Homo sapiens: one gene and its partners. The protein of the gene in region 1 purifies or fractionates together with the protein of each later gene. This does not show direct contact. Each region holds a gene or a part of one and is shown on either strand. Other genes may lie near its edges.

Region 1 (3,500 bases):
ACAGTGGAACCCACGGGTTCTCAAAGAGGTTAGGTACTTGGTGCTTCTTGCCTGTCCTGTCTTGAAGCCTGGAATAGCAAGTTCAAGAACCTGAAGGGTATGGGGACCTGGCCCCATGACCTTGGCCTCTGTGCAAATTTGCTGAAAGAACTTTCCAAAGGCTTTGCAAGGCAAGCACAGTCTGTTTCATGGATGTTTTAAAACCAGCTGAGATGGTTTTGCAGCTGAGAAACGTGCTAAAAAGGCATTGCATCCGTTTTGTTAACATTTCCATCCATTGAGATTCGCTTTTATTCCCTTTAGTGAGCAGAAAATGTTACCTTTTCCAGCCCCACAGTGGGAGCTTCTCACTGGGTATGTGGGGAAGGCAAGGGAAGTGTGGGGCAGGGGCTTTTATAAGTGGAAGGGGTTGGTGGTGGGAGGAGAGGAGCAGGAAGGGGCTAGAGCATATCATGGTGGTCTTGGGGACTCTGGAGAGGCATTTGGGATGGAGGAGGAGAAGGGAGAGAGGAAGATGGGCCCAGTGAGATGCCCAGGGGGATTTGAGGAAGTGGAGCTTCCTGACGACTCAGGCTGTTGACGGGGTGGTGACGGAGCACAGGGAACCACTGAGGCTGCATTGAGGACTGCAGGGACGAGGGGAGGGCGCAGGACTAGGAGTTGGGAGGCCCTTGTGGTCCTGGGCAGGTTGCTGGGCTCTGAGCCTCAGTTTCTCAGGGTTTGACTCAGGAAGTGCAGAGTTCCAGCTTTAATGTTCTTGGTGCAGGGGAGAGTCCAGGCTTGGCGTGGTTGTTCCTGATTTCTCTTCCTGGGACTCATAGAACTTTGCACACCCCATGCTTAACCACACGTCTTACCTCATTGATCTTCACAGCTGCTCTGTGAAGCAGGAAAGTGATTTTTATCCTCTCCGCTGGAGGGTCGAAAGGTGGTGTGACCCCTTAAGGGCAAAGAGTCAGGAGTACCTCTTTCTCACTTGTATATGTTAACTGCTTTCAGGTGTGGCCACTGTGGGACCACTGCCCCCCTCCCACCCAACCCCCCCCCCCACCACCACAGCTCTCTGCCTTTCCGTTCTGTGTGGGGTGGCTCTTAAGAAGTGGAAAGTGATCATCTTGTTCCCTTAGTTTAGGATGGAGGGAGGTGGGGCGGGGATTGTGATGGGACTAGGTTAGGGGAAGAGGAGGATAGTGTCATCATTGTGTCTTTAAAACACCCAGGCTTTTGTGGTTGTGTTACCGTAATCTGGCCAGTGTTGACTTTAACCCGAGTTCAGGGGTTAGCCGTGATGCCATACAGGTGAGCCTCATTGTATGCAACAGAAAGCGTGGCTCCTAACAGAAAGCACGGCTCCTCAAAAAGCCGAACGAAAACAGTTGCTTTAGAGAGGAGTTCGAGGGGCTTGTTTGAATTTTATGCTTTCGGGCAGCCTTTTCTAAAATGTGTCCTAAAGAATACCAGTCTGTGAATATGTTTGGAAAATGCTGGGTACTCTGTGGCCGTACAGAAGACTTAGTCTGTATATTAGCATATATTAGTACCTTAAAGACAAGTAATGCAGTATTTTCCAAGCTAATTTGGCTAATGTCCAAGAACCTAGTGTTCTGAGCAGGGAAATTCTGATGTAGGGAAATTCTACACTATGGGCACTTTCTCTTTTTTTTTTTGAAACGGAGTCTTGGTCTATCGCCCAGGCTCCCAGCCTGAAGTGCAGTGGTGCGATCTTGGCTCACTGCAACCTCTGCCTTCTGGGTTCAAGCGATTCTCCTGCCTCAGCCTCCTGAGTAGCTGGGAATACAGGCGCACATCACCACGCCCGGCTAATTTTTGTATTTTTAGCAGAGATGGGGTTTCACCATGTTGGCCAGGCTGGTCTTGAACTCCAGACAGACCTCAGGTGATCCACCCACCTCGGCCTCCCAAAGTGCTGGGATTACAGGCATGAGCCACCATGCCTGGCCCACTATGGGCACTTTCTCTTTAAAGAAAATTTTGGAGGTTCCCTTTGTAACGAGAAGTCCTTGAGAATAGCTCAGAGGGGTCTGGCTCTGGGTCCATCTGCCAGGCTTGCGTTCTGATTCTGTCACCACCTCTGTGACCTTGGGCAAGTTTGTTCTCTTCTGCGGGCCTCCGATTCCTCGTCTGTAAGTTGGGAGTAACTTACTCCCAGTACTCATGGGGTTTTGTTAATTGTTCCTCACAAAAACTAGGGAAACTGAGACCCAGAGAGGCAGTGTGACTTGCACCGGTTCCCACGGCTGGTGGCTGTGGGTTCTTCTTGTCTCCCTGGGCCCAAGCCGTGCAGTCTTCTCTGGGCACCCTCCCTGTCTCTCTGGGGTCAAGGTCAGCTGCTATTTCTCTAGACACATCTTTCCAGCTTCACCCCTCCCTCATTTCAGGTCTCAGAACACTGGGATATTCACGTTTTGTAGTTCCAGCGCCATGTTTGCCTCTGGAGCAGTGGTGGAGGGTGGGGTGGGATACCGTCTTGGTCCTCAGGGTACTCTAAAGTTTAGACCAGGTGAAGGGTGTAGATGCGACAAGATGAGGCACATCCTCTCTGGCCAGGGACCCGTGTTGAGGATGATAATGACTATCCTAATAATTTGTTGTATTTGTCAAGTGCTAACTATGTGTTAGGCACATATTTCTGCCAACAAACTAGAACAGTTTATGTACTTTTATTATCCCCATTTTACAGATAAACTGAGGTTCAGAGTGGGACAAATAACTTGTGGTCAAAGCCACAGGCATAGGAGGAGACAGAGCCTAGCTGTGTCCTGGAGTGGCAGGACTCAGTCCCTGTGTTCCTAACTACCCCTCTTTCCTGCTCCCATGCCGGGAGGGGCTCAGCTTATACATGATCTGGGTGCTTAGGGGTAGGAAAGCTGCTTCTAAGATGGGGTGAAGGGCGAGTGGGGTTTAGTCCGGCGGGGTGGACGTAGCTGCACTTTCTTGGGTTTTCCCCACTCGCCACTCTCTGCTCCTCAAGGCCACCTCCAGAGCTCACTGACCTCTGCCTGAGTGGCTTGGGCCACCTCTCGCTTTAGGAGTGGATTTTTTTTTTTTTTTTTTTTTTTGAGACGGAGTTTTGCTCTTGTTGCCTGGGCTGGAGTGCAGTGGCGCGGTCTTGGCTCACTGCAACCTCCACCACCCGGGTTCAAGCGATTCTCCTGCCTCAGTCTCCCCCAAGAAGCTGGGATTACAGGTGCCTGCCACCATGCCTGGCTAATTTTTGTATTTTTAGTAGAAACAGAGTTTCACCATGTTGTCCAGGCTGGTCTGGAACTCCTGACCTCAGGTGATCCGCCTGTTTTGGCCTCCCAAAGTGCTGGGATTACAGGCGTGAGCCAGGGCATTTCACATCTCTTTAGCTCATGGGGCCTGCCCTTAGCCTTCTTTTGCCCCACCCCAGGGAGAGGCTTTGGGCCTGGCCTCTGTAGTCTGGGTGGGGTGCTGTTGCCACCCCCTCCCTCCAAATTCTCCCTGATTTTAAGCTG
Region 2 (3,602 bases), on another chromosome or scaffold:
CAGCCACAGCTGGGGGCGACGATTATGGAAGCTGCCGGGGGTGGTGCCATGCCTTCAGCTGCTGCCTTTCCTCCACTCCCCGTTATCATCTTTGTCCCCTGAGGTGCCCCAAAGGGACTGCCACAACCACCCCCACCATCCTCCAGCCCCTTGCACATCATCCCAGAGCCCCCCGGAGTTCCCCGTCAGTGTACCCGCCTGCCCAGCCAAGCCTCCACGTGGTGCCCCTTACCACCCATCCTTTTACCCAGAGGCCCAGAGCATGTGGGAGACAGCACAGGGCCCCATCCCCAAAACATCACTTGCCAGGTGACACTGGGCAAGCTGTACTTGACCTCTGAGAGCCGTGTGTCCCCAGCTGGGAAACAGGGCAACCCATCCCATCCTCCGGGACTCTGCAGGTCAGAGCAGACGAGCTGAAAGCTCTAAAGCACTGGCGGGCTGGAAGTCATTAGAAGAGAAAGCAAAGCAAGCCCCTCAGGACAGTCACACGGCTGAGGTTGGGTATTTCACTTTATTTAGCAAACGGTCACACTCGGCCCCACCACACCGCGCCTGCAGCCTCACTTGAGCATCTGTCTCAGGAAGCAGCTCAGGGTGAACAGGAAGGCCTGGGTTTCCCAGTTCAGGCCTTATCCGTCGCCACACGTGCCACACACCACAAAACAAAATCACTTCCCCACGTCCTCAGGAGCCCACCCCAGTGTGGTCCGGGGGACCCTCCAGTGTTCAACAGCTGCCTGCAGGGGCCACAGCCCATCTGTAGACACAGACCCCTGCTCCTGAGACACCAGCCCCAGGAGAGCCTCCGTCTCCAGCTGTGGGGGGTGCCAGACCCTAAGCCTCGGCTCTGCCACCTGTCCCTGCTGGGCAAGAAGCAAAATGTATGAAAATACTTTAATCATTTATTTGAAACAGTTAAGAAATAAGGTCATCTTGTTGTTCTTTTATAATCCCGGTAAAAAAAAAAGTTCACATTGGCTCCTGGGCCCAGGGACAGGCCCCGCCGGAGGCGCCACTCAGTAGAAGCGCTTGTTCCGCTCCTGCCGCTTCTGGAACACCACGGCCCCCACCACGGCGCAGACAACGATGCCCAGGAGAGCGCACAGCAGCAGCAGGAACACCCGCCACCCCGTCAGGGGCCCGCTGCGGAAGTTCCCCGTGGGGTCGTCCACGTTGTCTGGGGGAGAAGAAACGGGGGAGCTGAAACGGCAGCACGGGCCGGGGATCAGGGGGCTGCAGGAGGGCAGTGGGGATGGAACAGGACAGCCGGCCACGGTGGGCAGGCCGGTCGTACTCACCCCCCTCACCGGGGAGGGGCAGAGGTCAGGTGAAGCCCATCCCAGCCAGCTCTGCAGTCCCCAGGGCAGGGTGGGGCAGAGAGAGGACCAAGCCCACAGGGACCCGGGACCCCAGCGACAAGCCTGGGCTGCCTTCTGCTGCAGGAAGCCAGTTAAAACCAGACTCCTGGGCTCCTCTGAGTCCAACTCTGGATAAGGGGAGGCCCAGGAGTCTACATATCCAAGCCCCACCCCCACGCTGTGGTCTGAGGGCCCTTTCTGGAGCAGCGCGGCCCTGGTCACAGGCTCTCCCAGCCCACAGCTGGATGCTCTCGGCAGCCCCCCAGGAGGGTCTCCCAGGACCTGAGTCCCACACTCCACCCCAGCCCACAGCCTCTCTCCTCCACACAAGGTTCCCACAGGTCCTGCCCATCCTGGGATGGGGCCCACTGGTACGCTCCCTTGTACAGGCGGAGAGAAGACACTGACTTTCCCAAGCTCTCCAGGCTGTGGGTGGAGGAGCTGGGGTCTGGCTGGGCCCTGTTTCTGCCACTCTGCCTCCCTCCCTGACTGCGGCCCCCCCGACTCCACACTGTACAGTCTCCTCAGGCGTCCCCACACCCAGGCCTCGGGCCCAGGCCCTGCCTTTCAGCGACGTGCATGCCACCCTCTTGCCAGCCACAAGCCAACCTCCATCCTCCCTTCCTGCACAAGCTGCCACCAGCAGGCCTGCTGACCACTCTCGCCCCAGCCTCTGCTCTGCACACCGACAGCAGCGGCCACTGACCGAACGCGGAGGTCCCTAGGGATGGTGCTTCCCCAGAAAGCCACTCAGCCTCAGGGCTCTCACAGCTCCCTCTGTCTCCCTGTCTGCCGCAGACCCTAGAATGAGCCCCAGGGGCAGGGCCTGCCTGATCTCGTGTCTCCAGCACCCAGCCCATGGCTAGGCACAGAGGGCAGCTTTGGTCACATCTGAAGGAACAAATGGATTGAATCTAAAAACGAGTTCATCCTGCCTTGCCAGCTGCACGGGATGCTGGGTGGGCAAGGCAGGTGCCACCTCTGCAAACACCCAGCAGCTGGCAGCCTTCTGACCAAAGGTTGCAGCAAGGTTTGTGTGGTCCCCAAAACATTTCAAAATAATCTGAATCTTTAAAAAGTGAACTGTCACATAAAACACTGGATCTTGGCTTCTCCTGAAAAGCAGAAACACGCGGCCAAACTGGCCCACACGGCATGGGGACCCAGGGCTGGGCTACGACAGAGCCCGCGCCGTGCACTTCTGTCACTGGCTGGACCCCCAGGCACACATCTGTGGCTCTTAGGGTGGACTTCTCCACACACAGATGCCTCATTCCTCCAACCACAACGTTCACTCTGTGAGGAAAGGGGTAGCTAATTAGTGCCATGGGAAGAACCCAGGCTTCGGGTTTTGTAGAAACCCAATTTCCAATCTTGCTCTCTCTCTCCTTCTAGCTAAGGAATCCACCCCCTTGACCAGCAGCACGACTTCTTCCAGGTGGCTCACAGAAGGGACAGGTGGGCCAACATACCCAGCCCCCTGGCTCTGCTGGCCACTGCCCCAGCACCTAGTGAGGGAGGATGCTGGCCCACCACTCACACGTTTGTTGATCAGCCACTGCTTGCTGCCACAGCACTCACGTGACTAGGATGTCCTCAGGGACTGACTCTCTGCAGACTTCTCTTCCGCCTCATTCATTTACTCAAAAACTTGCCAGAGCTGACACGATCCAAGCCCAATACTCTAGGAGCTCGGACAGGGCCAGCCAGTGCCGCTTGCCAGGACCGGGCTGATCCAAGAGCCCAGACCACAACCACCACAACCACGACTGGACCACAAGACCCGCCAGGCTGGCTTCACCCCATTCTGGGTCAGGCCGCCCAGGCCCAGGCAGGGCGGGGCTGTGCACACGCACCTTTGGGCGACTTGAGGAAGTTGACGCTGGGCTCGATCTTGGTCCAGTCGATGCTCTCCTCGTCGGGCGTGTGCTCCACCATCAGCTGGAACAGCTTCATGGAGATGATGTCATGATTGTCTGCAGGACCAAGAATAAACCTGTGACAGCCTACAGGCCAGCCGCAGGGCACGTGGCCCAAGACCCTCCCACAAGGAAAGCTGCTGCTGCAGCCAGTAAACCTGCCAGGCCCCTGGGGAGAGCACTGCCCAGCCGGCTAGGGCCTGTTTTCTTCCCAGCTCCCTCCAGTCACCAGCAATAAAAAAGAGAGGAGGCAGAGTGGAGAGAAAACAGTAAGGGCTTTACAAGCAGAATCATCTGGGTCTAAATCCTGGGGTCTGCCGCC
Region 3 (3,500 bases), on another chromosome or scaffold:
ATAATTTTCTTAGTTAATGGGTATTATCACCGTTTAACAGTTAAATAAATGTTCATCTCATTCAATTCTGCATTTTACACGAAAGAAATATTCTCATACTTTGTTGTTTAACATCGTGATTTGTGACAGTTATCTGAGTTGTTCAAGGCACTTTATAGGTAATAAAAATAACTGTTTATATTATATCACCGTAGAGGGCTTTAAGGGCAAATGAATTTACCTCAGATTTACTTGAAAACAGTTCCATTGATGTTGAAAAGCAAGTCAGTGGCAAAATGTTTGAGTGGCTCCCATGGCTGGCTTTGCGGTGTGGCCAAGTCCCAGGCCCAGCAGTTCTGCTTAGAGCCAGTCACTGCAAAAGATAGTCTGTGCTGAGCGCTGAGGCTGCTTCTCTGCCCTCAGATGCTGGAGAATCAGATGGAAGTGCGGAAGAAGGAGATCGAAGAGCTCCAAAGCCAAGCCCAGGCCCTGAGTCAGGAAGGGAAGAGCACCGACGAGGTAGACAGCAAGCGCCTCACCGTGCAGACCAAGTTCATGGAGTTGCTGGAGCCCTTGAACGAGAGGAAGCATAACCTGCTGGCCTCCAAAGAGATCCATCAGTTCAACAGGGATGTGGAGGACGAGATCGTGAGTCGACCCCTACTGCACACATGGCTTTTCCACGAGCCCCCTTGCCTGTGCTAAAGCCCACATTCTCACTTCTCAGTCATCCTCACCTTGGGCCACGTTGGCAAGCTGAGCTGCCAAAGTCCACGCTCTGGATGGTCTAAAGTTTCTTTCCCTTTTCACCCTAAATGTAACTCCATTGGTCCTCTCACGTTATCTAGGGATACTGTAGGATTTTAATGGCCCTAAAACAGACTTTTTAAAAGTAATGAGGACTCACAGTGAGTTTGACCTTGAGGATGAGGTAGAGTTGGAAAGACTCTCCCTAGCCCTGTCTCGGAGAACAAGGGCGTGCTTCCCCAGACAGCCCTCCCGAGGGGGCTGAGCACTCTCTGAAGCTCACCCTTGCTGTCCCTCACTGCCCCTCACTGCTCGTTTGTGTCGTATATTTGTTCCTCTGAGTGGATCTGACCACTTATTTAAAATTCTTCCCAGTTGTGGGTTGGAGAGAGGATGCCTTTGGCAACTTCCACGGATCATGGCCACAACCTCCAGACTGTGCAGCTGTTAATAAAGAAAAATCAGGTAAGCCTTTCTGCTCGAGCTAGTTCTGTCTGATAAATAATTGCTCTAAATTATGAGACTGGGAATGGCAGAGAGCTTTGAAGCCTTGCTATTTCTTTCTGGCCCTAACAGCTTGACATAAGCAGCAGACGGCTGCCATTTAGCAAGCCTTTGTGTGTATTTTCCGCTCCCTCCAGACCCTCCAGAAAGAAATCCAGGGGCACCAGCCTCGCATTGACGACATCTTTGAGAGGAGCCAAAACATCGTCACTGACAGCAGCAGCCTCAGCGCTGAGGCCATCAGACAGAGGCTTGCCGACCTGAAGCAGCTGTGGGGTCTCCTCATTGAGGAGACAGAGAAACGCCACAGGCGGCTGGAGGAGGCGCACAGGGCCCAGCAGTACTACTTTGACGCTGCTGAGGCCGAAGCCTGGATGAGCGAGCAGGAGCTGTACATGATGTCAGAGGAGAAGGCCAAGGTGAGAGGAGGCGGGAAGCATCCCTGTCCCAGGAGAGCCTCAGATTCAAACCCTGGGCACACTTTCTGCTGGCGGCTCTGTCTGTATAAAAACTTCCCTTGTAGCCTTTGAGTGTTAAGGGGACACCATGTGCATGAAGGTGTCTGAAATCCAGCTGCTGGTTTCCCTTTGGTGCAGCATTTTCTTATCTGAATCCTAGTGTGCCATTAAGAACAGGTTCATCCTTTCATCTTTGAAATATGCCAGAGTCCTTCCTGCTGTCTATTTATAGGTTCCCTAAACTTTACAAAATACAGGATGGCTTGGAGACAATTTGAAAGTATTGCAAGGTTCCAGGAATGCTGCCATTTACATACTTGAGGGACCTTGAGGAATTCCAGCGAACCAGGCACACTTGGTCTGCCCAAGCTTTTCTCTGAGAGGGGCCCTGCTCATTCTGCGTTCTCCTTGTGTTTATCTTCTGCACAGGCTTCTGTGGTCCAGTCCATATGGAAGCTCTTGGAACACTTCTGTGTTCCACTGTCCGTACTGCACCTCTGGAGTTTTTCTTTCTACTGATCCTTCCTCCTACCCTGCTGAGCAGCTGGTCTGTCACTCCTTAAGGGGTAGGGCCAGAGGGGACCGCTATGGTTGTGATGTTCTCCTGTCTTTGCAGGATGAGCAGAGTGCTGTCTCCATGTTGAAGAAGCACCAGATCTTAGAACAAGCTGTGGAGGACTATGCAGAGACCGTGCATCAGCTCTCCAAGACCAGCCGGGCCCTGGTGGCCGACAGCCATCCTGAAAGGTGAGCGCTGCTTCATGAGTGTGAGACCCGGCTCTCGATTCCTCTCAGTTAGGGTCTCTTGCTAACCCCCACCAAAAGAAAATGTCAGCATTCATCATGACTTGCTGGTAAGGCAAATCTTTGAGAAGCATTTTTAAAACAGACCCATCATTTAAAACATCCTATCATGATTAGGATGGGTGAACTGTTATATTAGGAAATTGCTCTTGTGGGTTAAATATCTCCCGTTGGCCAAGGCTCTCCTGAAAGAATATTGGTGTCGTGAGTCAAAAGTACAGGTTGACTAGGCTGGGCAGTCAACGTAAAGTGGCTTACACTTGTAATCCCAGCACTTTACCAAGCCAAGGTGGGAGGATTGCTTGAGCCCAGGGGGCCAAAGACCAATCTCGGCAATGTGGCGAAACCTCATCTCTACAAAAAATACAAAAAATCAGCTGGGTGTGGTGGCACACGTCTGTACTACTCAGCTATTCAAGAGGCTGAGGTTGGGAGGATGGTTTGAGTCCAGGAGTTTGAGTCTACAGTGAACCATGTTCACACTGCTGCACTCCAGCCTGGGTGACAGAGTGAGACCTTGTCTCAAAAAAATAAAAATGATCAGAAGTACAGGTTGACTTGCATGGTGGATACAGATAGTCATAGCACTTACACTTGGGTTGAAAAAGTCATCCAGTTTAGTAAAGTAATTACTAGTTTTAAGAGGAGCATTAGACAAGAATGCATAGACCTGTAAAATGAAGGGGCTCCCAGGAAGAACAAAGTGATAACACCTCCTAACTCTTCGATATCAAGTGATTAGAACACCTTCGAGGAAAAAGAAGAGGTGAGTGTGTGGTACTCATCAGGCCCCTGTATTAACTTCCAAAGCAGTCATTTTAGGATTTTTGTGTAAATGCCTTTTATGACTTGGAAAGGAATTGGCCTTGTGCATTTAACCAGGGCAGGTTAGGGGAGATGAGGTCAGTGGCTCTGTTGGTGTAGGAGGTTCTTAAGATGTTCATGATCAGGATTCCCAGGAAAGTGGCCTTCCTAGTCTCCAGGGATAGGCACCAACATGTCCTTTGT
Region 4 (3,500 bases), on another chromosome or scaffold:
AGGTTGGTCTCAAACTCCCAGGCTTAAATGATCCTCCTGCACTGGCCTCCCAAAGTGCTGGGATTACAGACATGAGCCACTGTGCCCGCCCTCCTTCTACTTTCAAACATAAGGGAGGCTGAGTGAGCAAGCCCTGGGCCCCCCATTCCACTTTGCCCAAAGGGATTTAACTTCTAGCTATTTATATATCAAGAGCCTGAATGAGCTTTCATTTTCAGAAAGGGTTCCATCATTAAAGAAAAAAAGGTCTGAAAACAATCAGGCTAAACCCATCTCCATTACTCTCAAGACACGAGCTGCAGAACAGTACGCCCATTGCCTGGCTGTACCAGAGACTCTGAGTCAACTGGGTTTGGTTGGGGTCTGAGCATATTTTAGAAGCTTCCTAGCTGATTCCAAAGCACGATCAAGAGTTAAGAACCAGGCCAGGCACGGTGGCTCACGCCTGTAATCCCAGTACTTTGGGAGGCCAAGGCGGGTGGATCACCTGAGGTCAGGAGTTCGAGAACAGCCTGGACAACATGGTGAAACCCCATCTCTACTAAAAATACAAAAATTAGCCAAGCGTGGTGGCGGGTGCCTGTAATCCCAGGTACTCGGGAGGCTGAGGCAGGACAATCGCTTGAACCCAGGAGACGGAGGTTGCGGTGAGCCGAGATCGCGCCATTGCACTCCAGAATGGGGGACAAGAAGTTCTGTCTCAAAAAAAAAAAAAAAAAGTTAAGAACCGTAGTGCTGGGAGCTGCTTCTTGTGAGCAGCAGCTCAGTCCCATACGGTCAGCAGGCATCGTGATCAGGCATAGGCCTAAAGCGCTATATCCCTCACTAGGTGTGTGACTTTGGCAAGTTACTCAGCTTCTCTGAGCTTCACAATCCTCTTACAAACAGTGGAGATATGTATCTACCCCTTAATAGTATGTTGTGTTAAATGAAATGAGACCAGCAGGCAGGCTATTCTGGACACATTTTCAGAAATCCTTCAGGTCATCCTATTTGATGCTTGCTTCTTCAAGGTTTGGGTCTAAGTCTTGGACCATGGGTAAGTGCTCAGCTTGAAATAAACTAGATTCATCTGGCAGTAAAATGAAGAAGGAAAAAAAGAAACTAAATCCATATTAATTCTAGTCATACTGTTAGCATACATGCTTGTAATAATTGTCACAATCATAGGGTCTGTCATTTTTTGTGCTTACAGTGTGACAGGTGCTGGGCTGGGTACCTTACACTCCTGAGCTCAGTGAATCCTAACCCAATGAGGTAGACACTTATCCCCATTTTCCAGATATGCAACTGAGGCTCAGAGACTATAAGTCCCTTGAGGGCAGGGATCATGTCTATCTCACCCACTACTGTAGCCCCAGCACTTAATGTGGTGTCTGGCAAAATAAACATTTATTGAATAAAAGAATAAACTTGTCCAAGGTCACCTGGCTGGTAGGTGGCAAAGCTGGGACCAAAGAGCAGGACTGTCTGAGCCAAAGCCCTGCTCCTCCTGGCCATGCTCTCTGCTGCCAGGACTATTCAGGTGGGCACGTACCTGCAAAACCTGAGCCACAGTTGGTGATGATGTCCAACAAGGAATCGGGCAGGAAGCCATCAGCAGCAAAGTGCTCCAGGAAAACGTCCCCTTGCCTCTTGGAGAGCTTGCTGCCATCCCTGTTGAGGAGCAGGGGCAGGTGGGCGAAGTGGGGTGGCTGCCAGCCCAGGGCCTGGTAGAGGAGCAGGTGCTTGGCAGTGGAGACGAGCCACTCAGAGCCTCGCAGCACGTGGCTGATGCCCATGTGGTGGTCGTCCACCACGCAGGCCAGGTGGTATGTGGGGAAGCCGTCGCTCTTCATGATGACTGGGTCTCCCTCCACGCTGGCCACTTCATGCCTATTCCAGCCATAGACCAGGTCCTGGAAGGCTGGCACCACCTGCTCCAGGCGGAAGCGGATCGCAGGCTTGGGGTCCTTGGCCAGCTTCTGGGCCACCTGCTCCTGGCTCATGTTCCTGCACCGATTGTCATACCTGATGGGGAGCAGAGCAGCATGAGTACTGTTGATGGAAAGGTTGATGGACAGGAGTCCTACCTCTGTCATAGCTGTGTGACCTTAAGCAAGTCAGTTACTGCTGCAAGCTGCTTCCTCAGTCTATAACAGGGATGATGGTACAGTTGTGTGGAAAACTGAGATAACATGGTGTAGCAGACACTAATGTCTGCCTATCTACCAGCCATTCCACGCTTCTTCCTTGCTAACAAGAAAATAGCAAAATGCTTAGTCCGAGGGGTTGAATCCTGATTGGTATAGCCAATCTTGCAATCCTATTGCTCCATGCCAGTGACCAGTCCAGGCAGGAATGTAACCCCATCCTAGTCACTGGGATGCAAAGAAAAGCATGCCTGGGGAGTAAGAAAGGTTTAAGGTTCCGGGAAAGGTTTTTCTCTCCAAAGGACAAGAAGAGAAAGCCACAGGAGGAAAATCCCTTCTTAAAATTTCCCACTGCCCCACTTCTGTCCTCTTTGGATGTTGTCCTGTAAGGGGAGCATGCTTGGACCTGCGGCAGCTACTTGCAACTGCAGGAGGGAAGGCAATGAAGTCAGAGAGAAGCCAAAATAGAGCCCTGGTGTCTCTACACTGCTAGTCTCATCCTGGAGTCACCCACCTCCAGCCTTGTGCAGAATCAAAAGACAAATGTCTATGATTGATGCCCTGGCTACTGAAAGTGTGGTCTGTGGGCCCCTAGCATCAGCCTCTTGGGAGTCTGCCAGAAATGCAGACTCTTAGGCTCCACCCCAGACCTACTGAGTCAGAATCTGAACATTAACTAGGTCCCCAGGTGATCCATCTGTGAGTTAAAGTATCGTTTGTCCCTTCTAACAGGGTATTCCACTAACTGCACCCAAAAGCGTTCTGAGACACAGATGGAATGCTTGTAAGGTTAGTCTTTGCCACAGCTAAGTGTTCAATCAATCAATAAATGGTGCACAGGGCTGGACACAGTTGCTCACGTCTGTAATCCCAGTGTTTTGGGAGGTCAAGGTAGAAGGACAGCCTGACCTCAAGGGTTCAAGACCAGCGTGGGTAACATAGCAAAATCCTGTCTCTTATTTAAAAATTTAAAATACCAGCCTGGGCAACATAGTGAGACTCTGTCTCTACAAAACAAAACAAAACAAAATCAGCCAGGTGTGGTGGTGCATTCCTGTAGTCCCAGCTCTGTGGGAGGCCAAGGTGGAAGAATCACTGGAGCCCAGGAGGTTGAGGCTGCAGTAAACTATGATGGCACCACTGCACTCTAGCCTGGGTGACACAGCGAGACCCTGTCTCAAAAAAAAAACTTTTTTTTTCTTTTTTTTTTTTTTTTTTGAGATAGAGTCTCGCTGTGTCACCCAGGCTGGAGTGCAGTGTCGTGACCTTGACTCACTGCAACCTCCACCTCCAGGGTTCAAGCAATTCTCCTGCCTCAGCCTCCTGAGTAGCTAGGATTACAGGTGCCTGCCACCACAACCGGCTAAT
Region 5 (2,371 bases), on another chromosome or scaffold:
GAGTGCAGTGTTCTATGAATGTCATTTAAGCCAGGTATGTTAATTGTTATTCAAATTTTCTGCTTGTTGGCCAGGCACAGTGGCTCATGCCTGTAATCCCAGCACTTTGGGAGGCTGAGGCTGGCGGATCACCTTAGGCCAGGAGTTCGAGACCAGCCTGGCCAACACGGCGAAACCCCGTCTCTACTAAAAATACAAAAATTAGCAGGATGTGGCAGCGGGCGGCTGTAATCCCAGATACCCAGGAGGCTGAGGCAGGAGAATTGCTTAAACCTGTGAGGCAGATGTTGCAGTGAGCTGAGATTATGCCACTGCACTCCAGCTTGGGAAACAAGACCGAAACTCCAATTCCCAAAAACAAAACAAAACAAACCAACAAATTTTCTATTTGTTATATCTGCTTTTGAAATAAACATATGAAAATATTTTTCCAAAAATTAAATTCCATAATGTATCAGGAAAGAAAAATATAATTTCATTCTAAGGTTTCCTATTCCAAATTTTTTCTCTGAGTTTTTGAAAGCAACAACTTTGTATATCCCCCTTTTCCTAGCCTTTAAGCAGCAGGAACAATGAGCAGAGGAATAATATGTAGTTAGTAAGCAAGGCATGCTCTGAAGGCTACCAATGCTGCTCCTGTTCCACCAGTGAAACAGGCCACAGGCCCTCTAAGGCTCTTGAAAAAAGAACGTGGAAGCATAGGGCAGCTGTGTCCCACTGACAGCCAGGCATGGAAACAATCCTGGAGATGTGCTCCAAGCCTTGAACTTGAGGAAATGAACATCAAAGTTCGTAAGATGTTTCAAGCATTACCTTGTCACTATGGAAGTCTCTCCCTACACTGGCACTAAGTTCTGGCCAATATGGCCAGGAGTGAAGTTCTGTCCCAGTAAAACATACTTTTATCAGGTAAGGGGCATCATCCCCCTCCCAGCCTCCCAAACAGCTTTTGTACCTCAGATGGAGTCTCCCCAAAAAACATGTTCACAAAAGAACCACTACTGCCATCTTAGCAGGGCTGTGTGTGTGTGTGTGTGTGTGTTGTGTAGGTAGACAGAGGGGAGAAGCAGGCATGACAAGGATCACCTGACCAAAGTGCCTAGTTACCCATATACTGATAGAATAAAATCTCCAGTGTAAAGGAAAAATTATTTTTACAAAAACAGAAGCATGTTTTATTTCAATCCTGTTAAGGGAGAGGGATGGAAAACACAAAATAAGGGGAGGGGTCTCTTTATATAATACACACACCAGGATCAACTACAATGAATAATACCCATTCCATCCCTCCCCCACCAACTCCTATGTGGGTTCCAAGGCCAGCTGAGAATAGATGGGACAAGAATTAAGACACTTTGGCACAGTAACATGGCCAATGCACCGAAAGATGGAGAGAAGAGAATTTCCCAGGGAGCAAGGCCCTGGGCCTCAGCTGCTTCCCCAGTGGAGGGGTAATGAGAAAACTTTGGCTCAGCAGGAAGGCGGTTGTCAAAAATCTGGGTTACCTTAACTGGACTCTCCAGATCACAGACTACGGGCTGAATAGAGTCAAGATGTCTATCCAGTCCATTCTGTTCTCTGCTTTCTCTAAGATCACTTCTCTTCAGGCTTGCAATTATTGAGGGTTGGCCTGCTTCTCCTCTTCATCTTGGAAGGCAGGGGGAGTAAGTGCTTATTCTGCCCTTCCTATATCTAGGCCACTTAATTACTATTTTCTTGGCTCTAAAGAGACAGAAGCCAACTAACAAGTCCGGCTCTCTTTGTGAAAGTCGGCTTGAAAGAGCCCTTGTGTTGGCAAAACTGCCTCTGCAAATGGGTTTTTTTTTTTTTGAGCCTACCCCTTATAGACCCTCCCCAAGCTTGTTCAGACACCTCAATTGTGTGAGATGTGGGCAGAAAAGACTTGGTCCCTCTCCAGAGTTGGATTAAGCAATCCCATCTTTGACTGGAGATAGGGATGAGAAAGCAGGTGCTAGCAGGGGAAAGAACCGGGGAAAGCAAGGCAGTTTACACTAGGTTGCAGATTCAAGCCTATGGATTGTGAAGAGCCACCTAAGCTCCAGAGAAGAGGAAATCTCTGACACGATATGAACAAGTGAATATTTTAGCGGCAACCCTGTAATTCCCATAGACTAAAAGAGAATGGTCAAAAAAAAAAAAAAAAAAAAAAAAAAAAGACTGAGTGAGCAGAACCCAGCCCTCCATCTTCAATCTGAATAAAATTAACTCATACAGCTAATACTGCTCAAGTACAATCATGAAGACAGATGGAGCTGCTGAAATTCACACTAAAACAAAGAAAAGGATCAAGTGGACTGTCACCTTAATCCCAAGCACCTCCCTTTTAGAGTTATTGAGAAAATATCTTTGA
Region 6 (3,500 bases), on another chromosome or scaffold:
ACCCAGCCTGGGAGTCAGGGAGGGCTTCCTGCAGGAGAGGGGATTGGAGCTGAGACCTGGAGGATGACAGGGAATGAGCCGAGGGGAGAAAACCTTGGCTGTATCCCCAGTGTCTAGAACCCCATTCCCTGGCATCTCCCGTTAAATTCACAAGCAGTCCCTGAAGATACAAGATTGATTAAAATGGCTCTGCCCTCACGGGCTCCTGGTCTGTCAAATAATCAACAGATCACACAGATGGTAACAGGGAGTGCCAGCCACTGTTTGAAGCACCTTATATACACTAAATAATTTAGTTCAACAACAACCCTATAAGGTAGGAGCTCTTATTATCCCGCTTTACTGATGGGGGAAGGCCCAGAGAGGGCAAGTACTTTGCCCAAGGACACACCAAGGAGAAAGGCAGCTGGAATCTGAACCCAGAAGTACCCAGCCTGCAGCATGTGCCATGCTTAAGGTGTGAGGCCGCATTTGGGTTAGTTCTGGGAGGAAACAGGAGGTGGTCAGGGAAGGTCAGCTGGGTAAGGGGAAGGAAGACGAATGTTTCTGTCTTTCATGGTGGGATCCTAGACAAGCCTCAGTTTCATCCTCTGTATAATGGGGATGGTTATAATACCCACCAGAGAGCAGAATTTAGGGTGAGTCATTCATTGGGTTAATAAGTGTGCATGGTCCTTATCTAAGGCAAAAGTTTGCCTTTGAGAGACAGTGGGAGAGGGAGTTGATGCCCCAGGGGGAACTGGGGTGCCGCAGTGTGCACCGTAGAGATTTCATTGCTTGGTTCCCCAGAGGGCTTCTCTGTCTCTACAGTCTATGGGGACAATGTGGAAGGCTTTGGTCTGTATTCTGGGGCAGTGAAGGGGGGGTTCTATCCAGCCTCAATTCACCCACGTGGTGGGGAGGTGAGGTCAGAATGGGGTCGGGAAGGGGGTCATCCAGGCCAGGCCACGCGTGTGAATGTGGGGCGGAGGGCTGCTGCAGGAGAGAGCCCATCTAGGGTATGGCTGGGCTGGAATATGTGTTGGCGGTGGTGGGGAGCTGCAGAGTGTGGGGAAACAGCCATCAGGTGTGGGCTGCCAAGGGCAGTGATTTGCCCGTGTCTGGTATGGGAGGTAGTGATGTAGATTTGTCTTTGGTGAGCCCAGCGTGGAGAGTTTTCAGCTCCGGCCCCGGGGTAAGAGCTGTGAAATCTGTGAGCTATCTGGGGAGAGCCATTTGGAAGGTGGAGCCAGGGGTGGTGATGTAACGCTGGAAAGGAAAGGGGTCATCCTAGTGAATGATGAGAGGGAGAGAGCTGGGGGCTGAAACACTGGGTGTAAGTGTGCCAGCGCCATGATGTCATGAGGCCCGAGAAGTGGGTCAGGTGTGTGGGCCAGGATGGGGCCTGGAGGGCAGCCGCACAGTGCTCGCAGGGATGGGGTGGTGACGTCATGGGTTGGTGAGGGCGGGGCCTCGAAGGCACCGCTGGGATGCGTGAGGTCAGGAAGGAGGCAGAGGCTGAGAAGAGGAACTGGGAGAGGCTCAGGACTGGAATGAAATCAGCCACCAGGATGAGCCACTGGTCATTCCGAAGCAAGGATGGAGGATGCAGGTAGAGGGACAGGGTCAGCGGCGGGAGGGGAGAGGGGGCTCAGGGTCCGGGGAATCCTAGAAGTGGCGGTGGTGGTGGGGTCAGTGGAGAGGAGGGGTTGTTCAGAGAGGGCTCTCTAAAGGGAAGAGAGGTGGAAAATATGTGTGCGGGTGGAGTGGGGGTTGGGGGTGGGGTTACAAGCAATTTGGGAGGGAACAGAATCCAGGTGAAATATGGGAGTGATGGAATACAGGCTGAAAGTGGGATGTGTGGAGCAGAACCTTGAGCAAATATGCGGGAAGAATGCAGTTGGAATAACGGGGTGCATTGAAGTTGAATATGCGGGAGCCCTAGGAGACCGTGGGTGGCTGGTGTAGGGAGGAGAGTGCGGCTGCCTCCCTGCCCCCAAATCTGGGAGAGCAGGATGGAATGAAGGGGCTTTGGACGGGAGAGAGGGGGCTGGTTTCCGGGGAATGTAGCATGAGGGTTGGGCTGGAATATGTGGAGTGGGAGGTTCTGCAGAGAGGAGGGGAAGGGGAGTCCAGAATTCCGTGGCCATCTGGGGGACAAGTGACGGGCAGCTGGGGTCAGGGAGGCCGTGTGGAGCTGGCACGGGTGTGGGATTTATTCCATCAGCAGTTACTGAGCACTTAGGACATGCCTAGAGGAGGGGAAGGGGCCGGGCAGCGGGTGAAGTTTGTGGAGGTGAGAGAGGTGTAAGTGTGCAAGGGGAATTGAGTTTAGGCAGAGTATTCGGTGGCTCAGTGTCTGGGATCAGGGCGGGGTGGGGGCTAAGGACAAGGCAATGGGATGCCGAAAGGGGCTGCTCTTCGCGGGGTGGGTATGGGGGGTTTCTGCCGAGCAGTGGGGAAAGGGGAGTTGGCGGCGGGGATGCGGTGTGGCGGGCCCCCTTCCTCTGTGCGGTCTCCTCCCGGGAGTTGGGGACCACGAGTGGGGGCGGTGATGCTGTGCGGCTCCTCAGGTGTTCAGTTCCGTGGGTGCCTCCTACGCCTTGGTAACCCGGACGGTGTCGCCGCTGATAGGTTCTGGGAGCCGGAGGGGGTGGGGTTGATGGGCGGGGTTTAGAACACCCAGTGGGGCGGGGCCAGTGCTGCCACGCACTGCATTGGGGTCAGGGGATGTGGGATATGCGGCAATTTGTTTGCAGCAAGATCGAGATTATTATTTTTTATTTATTTGTTTTTTCTGAGACAGAATCTTGCTCTGTTACCCAGGCTGGAGTGCAATGGCATGATCTTGGCTCACAGCAACCTCTGCCTCCCGGGTTCAAGCGATTCTCCTGTCTCAGCCTCCCGAGTAGCTGGGATTACAGGCACCTGCCACCACGCCCAGCTAATTTTTGTATTTTTAGTAGAGACGAGGTTTCACCATGTTGGCGAGGCCGGTCTCGAGCTGACCTCAAATGATCCACCCTCCTCGGCCTCCCAAAGTGCTGGGATTACAGGCGTGAGCCAACGCACACGGACGAGATCGAGATTATTAACCTGGACTTATGAACCATCAGAGAATGAAAGCACAATTGCCAGAATGTGAATTTTCCAGGGGAAGGGGGTCCCCGAATTCATCAGCCCTTCCAAAGCACTCTTCTCCCAAATGAAGTTAAGAGCTGTGATCTAGAGAGAGGTGTCTGTCAGGAGGTCTAGGGCCTACGCCATTGCCCTTGGGCCTCTGAGAAAAGAGATCTGTGGATGGGCCTGGGGGGTGGTAATTTGGGAGCCACTGAAATGAACTTGCAAAAGGTTTTGGGACTATTCATTTATCTGCAGAAGGCTCAGAAATTTCATTAGATTCTCAAAGGCTCAAGGACTCTAAAAAGGTTAAAAATCCCTTACCTGGAGTTTCAAGGATCATCTTTTTTGCCTCACAATATTGTATTTTCTGATATTAGATTTTATTTTATTTTTTGAGA
Region 7 (3,500 bases), on another chromosome or scaffold:
GAAAAATTAATATGAAAGAAATCTGACTAAATGAAAAGTTAACTGCCTCAGAATTTTTATTGATGTGTTTCATAAAAGGCAGTAAGAATTGTCTTTTTTACAGTTACTCATATGTTTAATGATTCTTTGGAAGGTCTTAATTACAGAGCACGGTGACCTGGGTAATAGCAGATTTTTAGATCCAAGAAACAAAATTTCCTTTAAATTTGACCACTTACGGAAAGAAGCAAGTGACCCCCAGCCAGAAGAAGCAGATGGAGGTCTGAAGTCTTGGAGAGAATCCTGTGACAGTGCTTTAAGAGCCTATGTGAAAGACCATTATTCCAACGGCTTCTGTACTGTTAAGTATCTGACTGCTTCGTTATCAGAGAGTGTTTTCTTATATTTACCTTATCCTTTGGAGGCTTTGGCCTACCAAACATCCCTACTTTCTTCTTAGCCATGCTCTCTTCTCCTCTGCATTTTATTCCCTAAATCATTTTGGAAAGGGGTATAAATGAAATTTTTATATGGAAAATTTCTTTTTAAAATCCCAATGCACAAAAAATTTAGGTATCAGTGTATTCTGTTTTCACATTTGACTTATGAAAAATGCCTTACACCCATCAGAAAAAGGTCTTTGGTTTTTCTTTTTTTCTTTCTTTTTTTTAAATTAACCTTTTAAATTAATTTTTTTTTGTTTGTATTTTTACCCAGATCTAAAAGGTCTTTGGTTTGGACATGGAGAAAAAAATGGTATACTAAGATTGTTGAGAGAGCTTTTGCTCATATTTATGGCTTTTTGATATAGGCATTTTTACACAAACTACTTCTACATAGTTTAGATGTTTATATTCAGTAATCAAAACTATTAGAACTAAACAATTGGCTGGACATGGTGGCTCATGCCTGTAATCCCAGCACTTTGGGAGGCCAAGGTGGGCAGATCACTTGAGGCCAGGAGTTCGAGACCAGCCTGGCCAACATGGTGAAACCTTTACTTAAAAAATACAAAAAGTAGCTGGATGTGGTGGTGCACACCTGTAGTTTCAGCTACTCAGGAGGCTGAGGCACAAGAATCACTTGAACCAGGGAGGTGGAGGTTGCAGTGAGCTGAGACCACACCACTGCATTCCAGCCTGGGCAACAGAGTGAGACACTGTCTCAAAAAAACAAAAAACAAAAAAAACCAAACAATTTTTTTTTAATCAGGAGTGATTTTCTTTTTGTTGTTGTTTTTGCTGTTGTTGTTGTTGTTCTTTTGTTTTTTGAGACTAAGTCTTACTCTGTCACCCAGGCTAGAATGCAGGGGCACCGTGTCAGCTCAATGTCACCTCCATCTCCTGGGTTCAAGCAATTCTCCTGCCTCAGCTTCCTGAGTAGCTGGGATTACGGGTGCCCACCACCACACCTGGCTAATTTTTATATTTTTAGTAGAGACAGAGCTTCACCATGTTGGCCAGGCTGGTCTCGAACTCCTAACATCAGGTGATCCAGCTGCCTCGGACTCCCAAAGTGCTGGGATTACAGGCGTGAGCTGCTGCACCTGGCCTAATTTTCTTTTACTCCCTCTTGACTGTAAAAATAGATAAATTTGGCTTTATTATTTTTCCTTTATAAAATTATGGCATATTAAGAAAAATATTGATTAGAATATTTTTTATTTTTAAATTGACAAAAATATGATATGTACAACATGATATTTTGAAATATGTATACATTGTGGAATGGCTATATTGAGCTAATAACATGGATTTCTATACATATTTATCATTTTTTTGTTGTGGGAAAATCAGCAATTTTCACTAGAATATTTTAAATATACAATGATGATGAATTACATGGCAGTCTAGAATACAGTTAAGAGCACCTACTTTGAAGCCTTACTAACTGGTTTGATTCCTGGCCCTGCCAATTAATTAGTTGTGTGACCTTAGGTAAATTACTTAACATCTCTGTGCCTCAATTCTTTGACTGTAAAATGGAAATAATTGTTTTTATCTCATAGAGTTGTTGTGAAGATTTAATGAATTAGTAATATATGTAATATATGCCTGGAACAGTGCCTGGCACAAAGTAAGCTCTACATAAATGTTAGATGAATGTTAGGCTAGGTGTCATTATGTTTGATTTTTTTTTTTTTTTTTTTTTTTTTTAATGAGAATACCCATTATGGTGGACTGGACAAGTATAGAATTCCTGTTGGGAAGCCAGTATTGCAAAGGGGAGACATGATAGACTCCCATTTAGAAATTGACTGTTTAATCCTAAATATACTTTGAATTTATTGTTTGTTACCTGTTCAAAGTTTGTCACTACCCATTCTTAATTTGGAGAGCTCCAGCACCAAATAACCCTACTGTGTCCTTAGCTATCAAATGACCTACAGAAAGTCATGGAATTGTTGTGATGGTGTCTGCTGTATATAAGTATCCTATGTCTTATGTCTTCAGCTGACCTGCTTAGTAGTCCGTAATTTCATCTCCTTATTCCCTATCACATTTTCTACATAGTATGTTCCAAACATTTTTCATTGTCCTCTGACAGGCATCTAATCCCCCATGTTTTGTAAGGATTGAAACTGACAGAAATTTTTTTTTTTTTTTTTTGAGACAGAGTCTCACTCTGTCTTCCAAGCTGGAGTGCAATGGTGTGGTCTCGGCTCACTGCAACCTCCCCTTCCTGGGTTCAAGCGATTCTCCTGCCTCAGCCTCCTGAGTAGCTGGAATTACAGGCGCCTGCCACCACACCTGGCTAATTTTTGTATTTTTAGTAGAGACGGGGTTTCACTGTGTTGGCCAGGCTGGTCTTGAACTCCTGACCTTGTAATCCGTTCGCCTCAGCTTCCCAAGTAGCTAGGACCACAGGTGCACACCACCATACCTATCTAATTTTTCTCTGTGTGTGTTGTGTGTGTGTAGGGACTACAAGGCATGAGCCACCAGGCCCGGCCTATTTCTCCTTCTTTGTCTGCCCTTTCCACCTTGCCCTTTCTCCCTCTTCTCCACTTTTTCCCTTCTCTCATCTCTCTCTGCATCACCACCACGTCAGTACATATTCTTTGCCTGCTAATGCCATTTCCTCTATCTACTTCTGAACCCTTTAATTTTTTACTTTAGTCTCCATTCTACAGAAACTGCTCTGAGTTTACTAATGGTTCCTGAGTTACCTGGTCCAGTGTCCTTTTCCTTGTCCATGACTTCCGAATGGCATTTCACACTGAAGCCAATCAACCACTTCTAGAAATTATCTTTTACTTAGGCTGCTGTCAGCAACCCCTAATTCTTTTTTTTTTTTAGAGATGGAGTTTTGCTCTTTTTGCCCAGGCTGGCGTACAGTGGCATGATCTCAGCTCACTGCAACCTCCGCCTCTCAGGTTCAAGCGATTTTCCTGCCTCAGCCTCTCTAGTAGTTGGGATTACAGGTGCCCACCACCACACCTGGCTAATTTTTGTATTTTTAGTAGAGATGGGGTTTCACCATGTTGGCCGGGCTGGTCTTGAACTCCTGACCTCAGGTAA

The links.
Region 2: the proteins of TNKS1BP1 (region 1) and LMAN2 purify together in Homo sapiens (affinity purification with mass spectrometry, with the first as the bait; one large-scale study listed by BioGRID). This does not show direct contact.
Region 3: the proteins of TNKS1BP1 (region 1) and SPTBN1 purify together in Homo sapiens (affinity purification with mass spectrometry; 2 studies listed by BioGRID, with this or other methods). This does not show direct contact.
Region 4: the proteins of TNKS1BP1 (region 1) and EARS2 purify together in Homo sapiens (affinity purification with mass spectrometry, with the first as the bait; one large-scale study listed by BioGRID). This does not show direct contact.
Region 5: the proteins of TNKS1BP1 (region 1) and CNOT9 purify together in Homo sapiens (affinity purification with mass spectrometry; 2 studies listed by BioGRID and IntAct, with this or other methods). This does not show direct contact.
Region 6: the proteins of TNKS1BP1 (region 1) and CCDC61 purify together in Homo sapiens (tandem affinity purification; one study listed by IntAct). This does not show direct contact.
Region 7: the proteins of TNKS1BP1 (region 1) and CAPZA1 purify together in Homo sapiens (affinity purification with mass spectrometry; 3 studies listed by BioGRID and IntAct, with this or other methods). This does not show direct contact.

The regions. Positions count from the first base shown.
Region 1 is NC_000011.10:57,304,453-57,307,952, reverse strand, and holds part of TNKS1BP1 (182 kDa tankyrase-1-binding protein), read left to right. Parts: intron 1-3,500.
Region 2 is NC_000005.10:177,331,067-177,334,668, forward strand, and holds the end of LMAN2 (vesicular integral-membrane protein VIP36 precursor), read right to left. Parts: intron 3,338-3,602; coding exon 3,218-3,337; intron 1,181-3,217; coding exon 1,020-1,180; 3' UTR 501-1,019; downstream 1-500. UniProt on the Homo sapiens protein: Plays a role as an intracellular lectin in the early secretory pathway. Interacts with N-acetyl-D-galactosamine and high-mannose type glycans and may also bind to O-linked glycans.
Region 3 is NC_000002.12:54,644,827-54,648,326, forward strand, and holds part of SPTBN1 (spectrin beta chain, non-erythrocytic 1), read left to right. Parts: intron 1-402; coding exon 403-627; intron 628-1,101; coding exon 1,102-1,191; intron 1,192-1,367; coding exon 1,368-1,649; intron 1,650-2,304; coding exon 2,305-2,435; intron 2,436-3,500. UniProt on the Homo sapiens protein: Fodrin, which seems to be involved in secretion, interacts with calmodulin in a calcium-dependent manner and is thus candidate for the calcium-dependent movement of the cytoskeleton at the membrane.
Region 4 is NC_000016.10:23,533,351-23,536,850, forward strand, and holds part of EARS2 (nondiscriminating glutamyl-tRNA synthetase EARS2, mitochondrial), read right to left. Parts: intron 2,011-3,500; coding exon 1,538-2,010; intron 1-1,537. UniProt on the Homo sapiens protein: Non-discriminating glutamyl-tRNA synthetase that catalyzes aminoacylation of both mitochondrial tRNA(Glu) and tRNA(Gln) and participates in RNA aminoacylation for mitochondrial protein translation.
Region 5 is NC_000002.12:218,595,210-218,597,580, reverse strand, and holds the end of CNOT9 (CCR4-NOT transcription complex subunit 9), read right to left. Parts: 3' UTR 501-2,371; downstream 1-500. UniProt on the Homo sapiens protein: Component of the CCR4-NOT complex which is one of the major cellular mRNA deadenylases and is linked to various cellular processes including bulk mRNA degradation, miRNA-mediated repression, translational repression during translational initiation and general transcription regulation.
Region 6 is NC_000019.10:45,998,467-46,001,966, forward strand, and holds part of CCDC61 (centrosomal protein CCDC61), read left to right. Parts: intron 1-3,500. UniProt on the Homo sapiens protein: Microtubule-binding centrosomal protein required for centriole cohesion, independently of the centrosome-associated protein/CEP250 and rootletin/CROCC linker.
Region 7 is NC_000001.11:112,654,332-112,657,831, forward strand, and holds part of CAPZA1 (F-actin-capping protein subunit alpha-1), read left to right. Parts: intron 1-133; coding exon 134-340; intron 341-3,500. UniProt on the Homo sapiens protein: F-actin-capping proteins bind in a Ca(2+)-independent manner to the fast growing ends of actin filaments (barbed end) thereby blocking the exchange of subunits at these ends.